Linked DNA regions of Homo sapiens. The protein of the gene in region 1 interacts with the protein of each later gene in a pairwise test. Each region holds a gene or a part of one and is shown in the gene's direction. Other genes may lie near its edges. The genes, in order: THY1, ATXN7 and HTR6.

Evidence for each region.
Region 2: the proteins of THY1 (region 1) and ATXN7 interact in a two-hybrid assay, tested with the Homo sapiens proteins (one study listed by BioGRID).
Region 3: the proteins of THY1 (region 1) and HTR6 interact in a two-hybrid assay, tested with the Homo sapiens proteins (one large-scale study listed by BioGRID and IntAct).

Annotation. Positions count from the first base shown.
Region 1 is NC_000011.10:119,414,879-119,417,630, reverse strand, and holds the end of THY1 (thy-1 membrane glycoprotein isoform 1 preproprotein), read left to right. Parts: 3' UTR 1-2,155; downstream 2,156-2,752. UniProt on the Homo sapiens protein: May play a role in cell-cell or cell-ligand interactions during synaptogenesis and other events in the brain.
Region 2 is NC_000003.12:63,866,829-63,870,481, forward strand, and holds part of ATXN7 (ataxin-7), read left to right. Parts: intron 1-12; exon of another isoform or gene 13-85; intron 86-3,653. UniProt on the Homo sapiens protein: Acts as a component of the SAGA (aka STAGA) transcription coactivator-HAT complex. Mediates the interaction of SAGA complex with the CRX and is involved in CRX-dependent gene activation.
Region 3 is NC_000001.11:19,678,141-19,681,589, forward strand, and holds the end of HTR6 (5-hydroxytryptamine receptor 6), read left to right. Parts: intron 1-426; coding exon 427-585; intron 586-778; coding exon 779-1,228; 3' UTR 1,229-2,826; downstream 2,827-3,449. UniProt on the Homo sapiens protein: G-protein coupled receptor for 5-hydroxytryptamine (serotonin), a biogenic hormone that functions as a neurotransmitter, a hormone and a mitogen. Also has a high affinity for tricyclic psychotropic drugs.

The DNA of each region.
Region 1 (2,752 bases):
GCTCCTTCCCTAAAAGTAGAGTAAAATGGAAGCGAGCATCCTGGGATTGGGGGCAAGAGGGGGACCGCAGGGTAGCTGTGGGTTCCAACTGCTGTCAGAGTCAGAGAGGCAGCCCCAAGCCAGCCTCCCTGCTTTGCCAGGGAATTTGGGGGAGGAAGGTGACAGCTGCCCAGAGGCTGACTCATCTGATATTTAGCACTGGGTAGGATGATTGTTTCTGAGCATTTTTCTTAAAGGCCTCAGATCTAAATTATGCCACCGGCTCCCACTCTTGCTACCTCCCGTCAACTTCTCTGCCTTGCCTTCCACCCCTGTAGTTACCATACACAGAGGAGGAGGAGCTGTCCTTGTCCCAGGTTGGGAGGCTGACAACCCCTTAGCAAGATGCTGCCAGCCCAGAGCTCTCCAAGGGGAGGAACACCCCTGAGACTCAGGCCCCTCTCCTTCAGCCCTGCTTGGGCTGCAAGCGCCGTGCCAAGGAAAGGCATCTTGGTGAGAAGAGCTGCTGTGGGGGAAGGGAGATCAAATGCCAGAGAAATGTGGGGTGCCCCACCCTCAGGATAGTAAAAGAGTATGGAGGTATTTCTGGAAGGAAATGAGCGGCACTGTGTGAAGCCTCGCACCTGTGTGACACTTCCTATGGGGTCTTTGTCACACTCTAGTACTATGTCCCTGAAGAGTTTAGCAGCCACACTCTTAGAAGGGTGCTGGGAGATGGTGTTGCCCTCTGCAGCCATGTTTAGGGGAGCGGAACCTGAGGCCCACAGTGGGTGAGATTAGCTCAAGAAGCCACAGAGGCCACCAGAGGGCCACGGACTTCGGAAAGGAGAAGAGAAGAACAGGGCATCAGGCCTCACAACGCAAACCTACCCAGAGATGGGCACAGTGGCTCATGCCTGTAATCCCACCACTTTGGGAAGAGGCGGATCGCTTGAGGTCAGGAGTTCGAGACTAGCCTCGAAACCCTATCTCTACTAAAAATACAAAAATTAGCCAGGCATGGTGGCCTGCGCCTGTAATCCCAGCTACTCAGGAGGCTGAGGCAGGAGAATCACTTGAACCCGGGAGGCGGAGGTTGCAGTGAGCCAAGATTGCACCACTGCACTCCAGCCTGGGAGATAGAGTGAGACTCCATCTCAAAAAAATAAAAAATAAAATAAACCTACCCGGAATGACCATGCTGAGGACTGGGAGCCCGCAGACTTTCAGCCACAGGCCGCGACAGCCGTGGGTCCCTCCCTGGTCAAGTCAGCAGGCCTTGTGGAGGCTGTGGGGTATCTGTGGTGACTCAGGTAATTATAGAGGGCTGGCCCCCAGCCCTGGTTCCTGTACACATGCCCCAACCCCATCCCCATCCACTCCCTCGCCAGTCCTAACCTCTTTCCTGGGTCCCCCCCCTTCAGCACCTAAGTCCATACCTAGGGCCGTGGAATTCCCGCTCAAGAGCAACAGAAGCCCCTCTCTGCACCCCCATTTCTGGACTGGATTGTCCACTGAGACGCGCAATGTCTGCATCTCTGACATCTAGAGGCTTCCTCGGGAAGGGCATGGGGATCTCCGTGAGATGTGGGGACTTTCACTGGCCAACCAAGAAATCTACACAGCGTCCGGGGACCTGTGACACACATCCCTCCCGCCTCCTCAACCTGATGTCCCTCTCTGAATCTGCAGCTTTCGTGCTGTGAAGGTGTCTTTACATGTGAAACAAACAAACCCAAGTCAAGAGTAAATCATCTCATTTACTAGTGAGAAAATGTTGGAGCTGGAGTCCTTCAGAGAGTCCTGGCCAGGCAAGAGGGCCATCAGCTCTCTTCTGCTCAACAGGGGCTCTCAGCCTCAGGACACTCTCAGGCCTGGAATGTCCCCAACACACTCAAGGAGAAACATGTCCTGTGCAGACCCACAGGAGGCATCTTTGCCCGGCACAAGGAAGAGCTGGGGTCAGTGGGACCTGTAGATGTAGACACATCATATGGAGGGTGGGTAGGACCAATGTGGCAGCTTCATGGAGGCCAAGTGTGGCTCTGCACCAGGAAGGGGCTGTGATGGCTGGAGGTGCCCAGCAGTGCAGGCGGGGAGTGCCTGGCAGTGGCGTGGCCAGGTGGAGGCCACCTGTCAAGTTTGCAATAAAGCAGTTTCCTGAATTTGGTGAGAACATGGACTAGAGGACTCTAGCCTCTTCCCCCTTTAGGGTTTCACTTCAGTAAGTCTTAAAATTAGAGTGTGGTGACTCACGCCTGTAATCCCAGCACTTTGGGAGGCCAAGGCAGGTGGATCACTTGAGGTCAGGAGTTTGAGACCATCCTGGCCAACATGCAGAAACCCTGTCTCTACTAAAAAAAAAAAATAAGTAAATAAATAAAAATTAGCCAGGTGTGGTGGTGCACGGCTGTAATCCCAGCTACTTGGGAGGCTGAGGCAGGAGAATCACTTGAACCCAGGAGGCGGAGGTTGTGGGCCGAGATCATGCCACTGCACTCCAGCCTGGGTGGCAGAGTGAGATTCAGTCTCAAAAAAAAAAAAAAAGGATTAGAGCTTGGTGCAGTGGCAGCCACCTGTAATCCCAACTTCTTGAGAAGCTGAGATGGGAGGCCCCCCTTGAGCCCAGAAGTTTGAGGCCAGCCTAAGCAACACTGTGAGACCTTGTCTCAAAAAAATAATAAAAACAATAATTCTTAAAATAAGCTGACTGGGCTGAAATCATGTATTTGTACAACAAACATTAAGCATCTAAATGCACCTGGCTCTGTGC
Region 2 (3,653 bases), on another chromosome or scaffold:
CTTCTTTTCAAGACAGATCTTTATGGGCAGAAACACAGAAATGGAAGTAGCAGATTTTAAGAAAACTGATTCAGACTTTGAACTTGTATGACCTTATATTTATTGATTTATTTGAGTCATAAGATTTCTGGGTTTTTTTTTTTTTGAGAATATGAAAGACTAGTTAAGAAAATTTGTGTGTTTATTTGATATTTGCTTTCTGAAAATATAAAAAATTATGAGAGAGCTAGCTATATATGGTCTTTATTCTGGGTCTGTGAAATAATGTAAGGAATTTTGTACTATGCTTTTAGAGCAAGAGTTATCCTGGGGGTCTGTGACCCTCCAAGGGTTGGTTTCAAGGGATTCCTGAACTCCCTGTAGTTGTGACCAGAACTTTTTGTGTATGTGTATTTTTCTGGAAGAGGGTCTGTAGTTGTTTTAGAAAAGAGATCCAGGACTTAAAAAAATTAGAGACACATCTTTTTATTGAATAAAATGGAAGTTAGAATTCTTTTCTTTTCTTTCTTCTTTTTTCCTTTTTCTTTTGAAACAGGGTCTCACTTTGTTGCCCAGTCTGGAATGCAATTGCATGAAACTGGCTCACTGCATCCTTGACCTCCTGGGCTCAAGTGATCCTCCTGCCACAGCCTCCCAGAGTGCTGGGATTACAGTCATGAGCCATCACAGAATGACCATTCTAAAGAGAAAAAAACATTTTTGAAAAGTAGATCTGTGTGCTCGTTACTTGCCTTTTAAAGTTATCTTCAGGCTGGGCACAGTGGCTTATGCCTGTAATCCCAGCACTTTGAGAGGCCAAGGCGGGTGGATCATTTGAGGTAGGCCGAGGCGGGTGGATCATTTGAGGTCAGAAATTCAAGAGCAGCCTGGCCAACATGGTGAAACCCCATCTCTACCAAAAATACAAAAAAAATTATCTAGGCGTGGTGGTGTGGCCTGTAATCCCAGCTACTCAGGAGGCTGAGGCAGGAGAATCACTTGAACCCAGGAGGCTGAGGTTGCAGTGAGCCGAGATCACTACACTCTAGCCTGGGCAACAGAGTAAGACACTGAAATAAATAAATAAATAACAAACAAATAAATAAATAAAGTTGTCTTCAGACTTAGAGGTGTAAAAGCACTTCCATTTTATTCCCACAACAAAGCATTGCCTATCAGTTGATAAGCCAAGCTGGTCTGACGTGCTAGTCCTGCATGTACTGTGGCTGTGTTTTTAAAAAATTATATCTAAAAATTCAGACCAGATCGTTTGATGGTAGATAAGCAAAGATTTGATCTTGACACCAGCCGTTGGAGTAAATGGGTCTTTCAGCTCCACTCTCTTCTCTCCAGAAAATTTGAAATTTGACTCAAAGGGAATCATTGTAAGAAAATGTGTTTGTGCCTTGGCAGGACAGTAGAACATGATGGGAAAAACACAGTTTGAGTCAAAATAGACTTAAAATTCAAATTTGGTTTCCTTTATTCACTGTAGCTACTTACCCTGCTTGACTCTTCAGTTACTCATCTGGATATGGCTAACTAGTAGAGTTGTTGGGAGGCTAGCTAGAAGTTTCCCGTATAAAAGTCTTAGCTCCTCTTTGGCCCGCAAGAAGGACTTACAAGCCAGGTTTGGGGAACCATTAATAAACATCTGAGGAAACATGTATATTCATGGTATAGGATAATAAGTACATTATTTCCAAATTGGTGTGATGAAGATATTAACACTTAAAACATTGTTTTTTAAGAAAAAGATTTTCAAAAATGAGTTAGGATTGAGTGGTCCCCAAATATAGATATTTAGAGGAAAGTGGAAAATGATGGTTTATTTGGCAGAGGGGAGGACATGGATGCTGCTGGGCAGGAAGAAATGATAGCCACCCACCAGCATTATATTTCTCTCTGTGGGCAAGATTCCATTTAACATTTTCTCTTCACTTATAATCTGAATTAAAAAACTAAAATACTGCACATGTACTTTATAGTCCATCACCCCTAAAAGTGCTTCAGCACTCCTTTCGTTTTGAGACCTTCACAGGTAACCCAGGGACTTCATGGGTGGAAGTTACACTTATAACTTTAGTTGTCTAATTCTGCTGTCTTTAAAATGCCTTCACAGTTGGGTACCTGTGTTGATTTTTGTCAATAGGAAAGGGTCTGGCAGGACTGAATCATATTTTACTTTAAATGCTGAAGTAAGAGAGGGCATTATGAGTCAAAAGAAAGTGTGAGATACGTAAATAAAATACTGTATAATGCTTATGGCCATAAAAATAAACTTGCTTCTACTATTTCTATAGTCTTAACCTTTCCTGTCATTTATTCGTGGTGATCATTTATGCTTTCTGCCCTTGGGTTGGGAAATGGTTATGAACACAGCCTTTAGGCTTTGAATATGGCCTTGATTCTCATTTCCTGAGCTCTCTGGTTGTGTTCAACTTGGTCCAGTCTCCTTCTTTGAGTCTAGAGGAGATGACCATTAAATGGGATAATAAATGCAAAAAAGTTTTGCTTACTCCTAGGCTCCTAGTAAGTACTCAGAAAGTGGTAGCCATTTTGAAGACAGTTACATTCTCATCTTTAGAAGGAGATATCATACATCTTTTTCTTTTCTTTTCTTTTTGTTTTTTTTTGAGACAGAGGCTCATTGTTGCCAAGGCTGGAGTGCAGTGGCATGATCTTGGCTCACTGCAACTCCTGCCTCCCAGGGTTCAAGCTATTCTCGTGCCTCAGCCTCCCTAGTAGCTGGGATTACAGGCATGTGCCACTACGCCCAGCTCATTTTTGTATTTTTAGTAGAGATGGGGTTTCGCCATGCTGGCCAGGCTGATCCTGAGCTCCTGACCTCAGGTGATCCACCTGCCTCGGCCTCCCAAAGTGCTGGGATTACAGCTGTGAGCTACCGCACCCTGCTAGAGATACTATACATCCTTTTAAAGAGAATACCTTTATTCATCCTTATTCCCACTTAGACCTTCTGGAACCATCTTACTTTCAACTCAGAAAAGCCTTTTACATTTTCTTGTTATGATAGGCAGGTATCCCAACATCTTGATGACCTATTGGACTTCTCCATTGTTCTTAGCCAATGGGGTTGCATTCTCTATTGGCCTGGCAGGTTATATCAAAATCTTGGATATGTCAGGGGCCAAACCAACAAGCCTGCACAGGTTTGGAGCTGTGATCCATCAAACAACTGTGTGATTTTATAGCCTGGAACAGAGATCAGCAAATTTTCTGTAAAGGACCATATAGTAAATATTGTTTACTTTGCCAGCCATCCAGGTCTCTACACCTACTCAGCTCTGCCATGATAGCAGGAAAACACTCATAGATATAAATGAATGGGTATGACTGTGTTCCAAGAAATGTTGATGAACACTGACATTTGAATTTCATGCAATTTTTATGTGTCACGTCATATTTTATTTTTTCAACCATTTAAAAATGTGAAAGTCATTCTTAGCTCCTGTTATATACAAATCTTAGCTAGATTTGGTCCATGGGCCATAATTTGCAGAATCCTTGCCTAGAATATTAGATGCATAGATTTGTGGCATTGCCAAGCAACCACCCCCAACATGTGCACACACACGTATGTGTGTGTGTGCTCACACACTGCTGTTTTATTTAGCATACTCTGCTTTTGGTATGGCAGTTTGATCTAATGC
Region 3 (3,449 bases), on another chromosome or scaffold:
TGTTCTTCTGAACCATCTGATTTGTGTTTCAGGTATTGCTCTGTCTCACTGCACTTCCTAGAGCTCCTTATGAAATTCTGGGTCAGGGTCAGGGCTCAGTGTGGGACCAGGATCAGAGCTCAGTCTAGGTCCACAGTTGAGGCTTGGTTTGAGAACTTGGTTATGTAGGGCTTTATGGTAGGTGTCAGGGTTCAGTGGGGGGCCAAGGTCAGGGCTTGGTTTATTGCTGATGTCAGGGCTTGGCCTGGAGTCAGGGTCAGGGCTCAGTCTAGGACTCTAGTTGGGACTCAGTCAAGGAACAGGGCCCAGTTTAATCCTGGCACTAGGGCTCAGTCTAGAATTAGGATTGAAGCTCAGTCTGTGGCTAGGATCAGGGTCAGACGGGGGCCCTTTCTCAACGGACTCATGTGGCCTTCCTTTCCGCAGGTGCCCAGGACCCCACGCCCAGGGGTGGAGTCTGCTGACAGCAGGCGTCTAGCCACGAAGCACAGCAGGAAGGCCCTGAAGGCCAGCCTGACGCTGGGCATCCTGCTGGGCATGTTCTTTGTGACCTGGTTGCCCTTCTTTGTGGCCAACATAGTCCAGGTAATGCCACGGCAGGGGGCAGGTGAGTCCGGCCCTTGCAGGAGAGGCCCTGGATCCCAGCCCAGGCATGGGGACAGGGGAGGGTAGGCTGCCTCTCGTGGTGCGTGTGTGTGTGTGTCTGCTCCATACATGCTGGGAAGGGTGGCCTGGGTCCCTGCCCTGGGACCAGGCATGATGCATCCCCTCCCCCCAGGCCGTGTGCGACTGCATCTCCCCAGGCCTCTTCGATGTCCTCACATGGCTGGGTTACTGTAACAGCACCATGAACCCCATCATCTACCCACTCTTCATGCGGGACTTCAAGCGGGCGCTGGGCAGGTTCCTGCCATGTCCACGCTGTCCCCGGGAGCGCCAGGCCAGCCTGGCCTCGCCATCACTGCGCACCTCTCACAGCGGCCCCCGGCCCGGCCTTAGCCTACAGCAGGTGCTGCCGCTGCCCCTGCCGCCGGACTCAGATTCGGACTCAGACGCAGGCTCAGGCGGCTCCTCGGGCCTGCGGCTCACGGCCCAGCTGCTGCTTCCTGGCGAGGCCACCCAGGACCCCCCGCTGCCCACCAGGGCCGCTGCCGCCGTCAATTTCTTCAACATCGACCCCGCGGAGCCCGAGCTGCGGCCGCATCCACTTGGCATCCCCACGAACTGACCCGGGCTTGGGGCTGGCCAATGGGGAGCTGGATTGAGCAGAACCCAGACCCTGAGTCCTTGGGCCAGCTCTTGGCTAAGACCAGGAGGCTGCAAGTCTCCTAGAAGCCCTCTGAGCTCCAGAGGGGTGCGCAGAGCTGACCCCCTGCTGCCATCTCCAGGCCCCTTACCTGCAGGGATCATAGCTGACTCAGATATCGTGTTCTGAAGGATGCTCCACTGTTGAGTGTAACTTGTGTGTGCAGAGGATGGGCTGGAGGACTCTGGATGTTGGGGAGAAGGACCTCTTGGTTCAGGTTAGGATGAAAACAATCATGACCTTTGCCCATTCTGTCAGGCTGGACGGGAGGGAATGCCCCCACCTGCAGGCATGGATTAATGCTGGGCTGAACCCCTTGCTACTCACAGTGTAGTCCATGGACAATCGGCATTGCCGTCACCTTTGGGAGTTTGTGAAAAATGCACATCTCTGCCCCTGCCCAGACCTGCTGAGTCAGAACTGCATGTTACCAAGATCCCAGGTGAATCATGTGCCCATTACAGTTTGAGATGTGCTGCCTTAGATCATCTTTAACCCTCAGAATGATTTGCTGGATGGTTTTTGGACCTGTCAGTCTCCCCTCCCTGGTATATATGTGGCAGCAGCTGCACCTGGGAGGCAGGCAGGCATGCATGTGGGCCTCTGCTCTACCACCTATGAGCTCTGGGGCCTGACACGAGTTATTTAACCTCTCCGAGCCTCGGTTATCCCATGTGTAAGGTAGAGAAATGATGCCTATCTTGCAGGTTGTCTTGAGAATTAAGACAATGTGTGCCCAGCACCCAGTACACGGTCAGTTAATTGGTACGTTCTGTTGTTACGACCCCCGGCTATCCAGCCCCCTGGCCTCTCCGGCTGTGTGTCAGGAAGGGCTCTTTGCTCCCGTTGTTCTCTTTCCATTTGCCTCCCCCTCTTCAGCCCTGGCCTAGCCTCCCAAAGCCTGACTCTGGTTCCCCAACTCCCTGTTCTGGCTCCTGGGTGGGGACCCCATCTCTCAGGGACCCTCCCAGCTCCCAAGCTGCTGCCCTGCCTTTCCTGGGGGCAAAAGGGGCAGGTGGCAGTTTCTTTTTCAGCCTCAGAACTGGTTTTCCTCAATCCTGGGGGGTCCTTGGACCTAGAAGGGAACAACTGATGGGGATAAACCCAGCCCCTTGCCCACCTGCCTCTGGCCTTCCCTGGGGTCAGTGAGAGAAATGGGAATGGTAGCTACTTGGGTCAGCAGAGTAGAGTCAAAGAGCTGTTCCTGGTGTGAGGTGGGGCCCACGAGGCAGGCAGGTGGACTCTGGCACAGGGGCCTTGGTTTCTGGGGGCAGGGGGTTGGGGAACTCTTGGTCGCCAGTTTACCTGCCATAGGTCCCTTTTCAGCCCTGCCTCCCCCAAGTTCCATCAACACAAACTCCCAGGGGGTCCTCCATGCCTGGCCTGGCCCTCTCCTTGGTGCTGATGAGACACAACTCTGGCCCCGGCGGCTGGCCTCTGAGGGGCCATGGTGCTTGCGGGGCTTCCCCTATCCCCCAGGTCTGCCCAAGGGGACTCTCAATAAACTCTAGCTGAAGGCAGTGGCTGTGGTGTGGACTGGATTCAACTGAGGGGCCACTCGGGGCTTGAGAAGCAGCTGGTGTCGTGGGGAGGCCTGGGTGTAGGTGTCCTGGGTTCTGGTCCAGATTCTGCCCCTTCAATCTGGGACCCCAGAAAAATCCTTTCCCCTTTCAGAGCCTCCATTTCCCATGTATGACATGAGCAGCTTAGTTTAAAAGCAACAAGAGTTGCATAAATACTTGTTTTTAAATTTTGTGTTTTAAGAGTTGGAGTTGGCTGGGCATGGTGGCTCATGCCTGTAATCCCAGCACTTTGGAAGGCTGAGGTGGGTGGATCATCTGAGGTCAGGAGTTGGAGACCAGTATGGCCAATATGGTGAAACCCCATCTCTACTAAAAATACAAAAAATTAGCTAGGCGTGGTGGCAAGTGCCTTAATCCCAGCTACTCAGGAGGCTGAGGCAGGAGAATCCCTTGAACCTGGCAGGTGGAGGTTGCAGTGAGCTGAGATCATGCCATTGCACTCTAGCCTGGTGACAAGACAAGACTCCGTCTCAAAAAAAAAAAAAAAAAAGAGTCAGAGTCTCACTCTGTCACCCAGGCTGGAGTGCTGCAGCACAATCATAGCTCACTGCAGCCTCGAG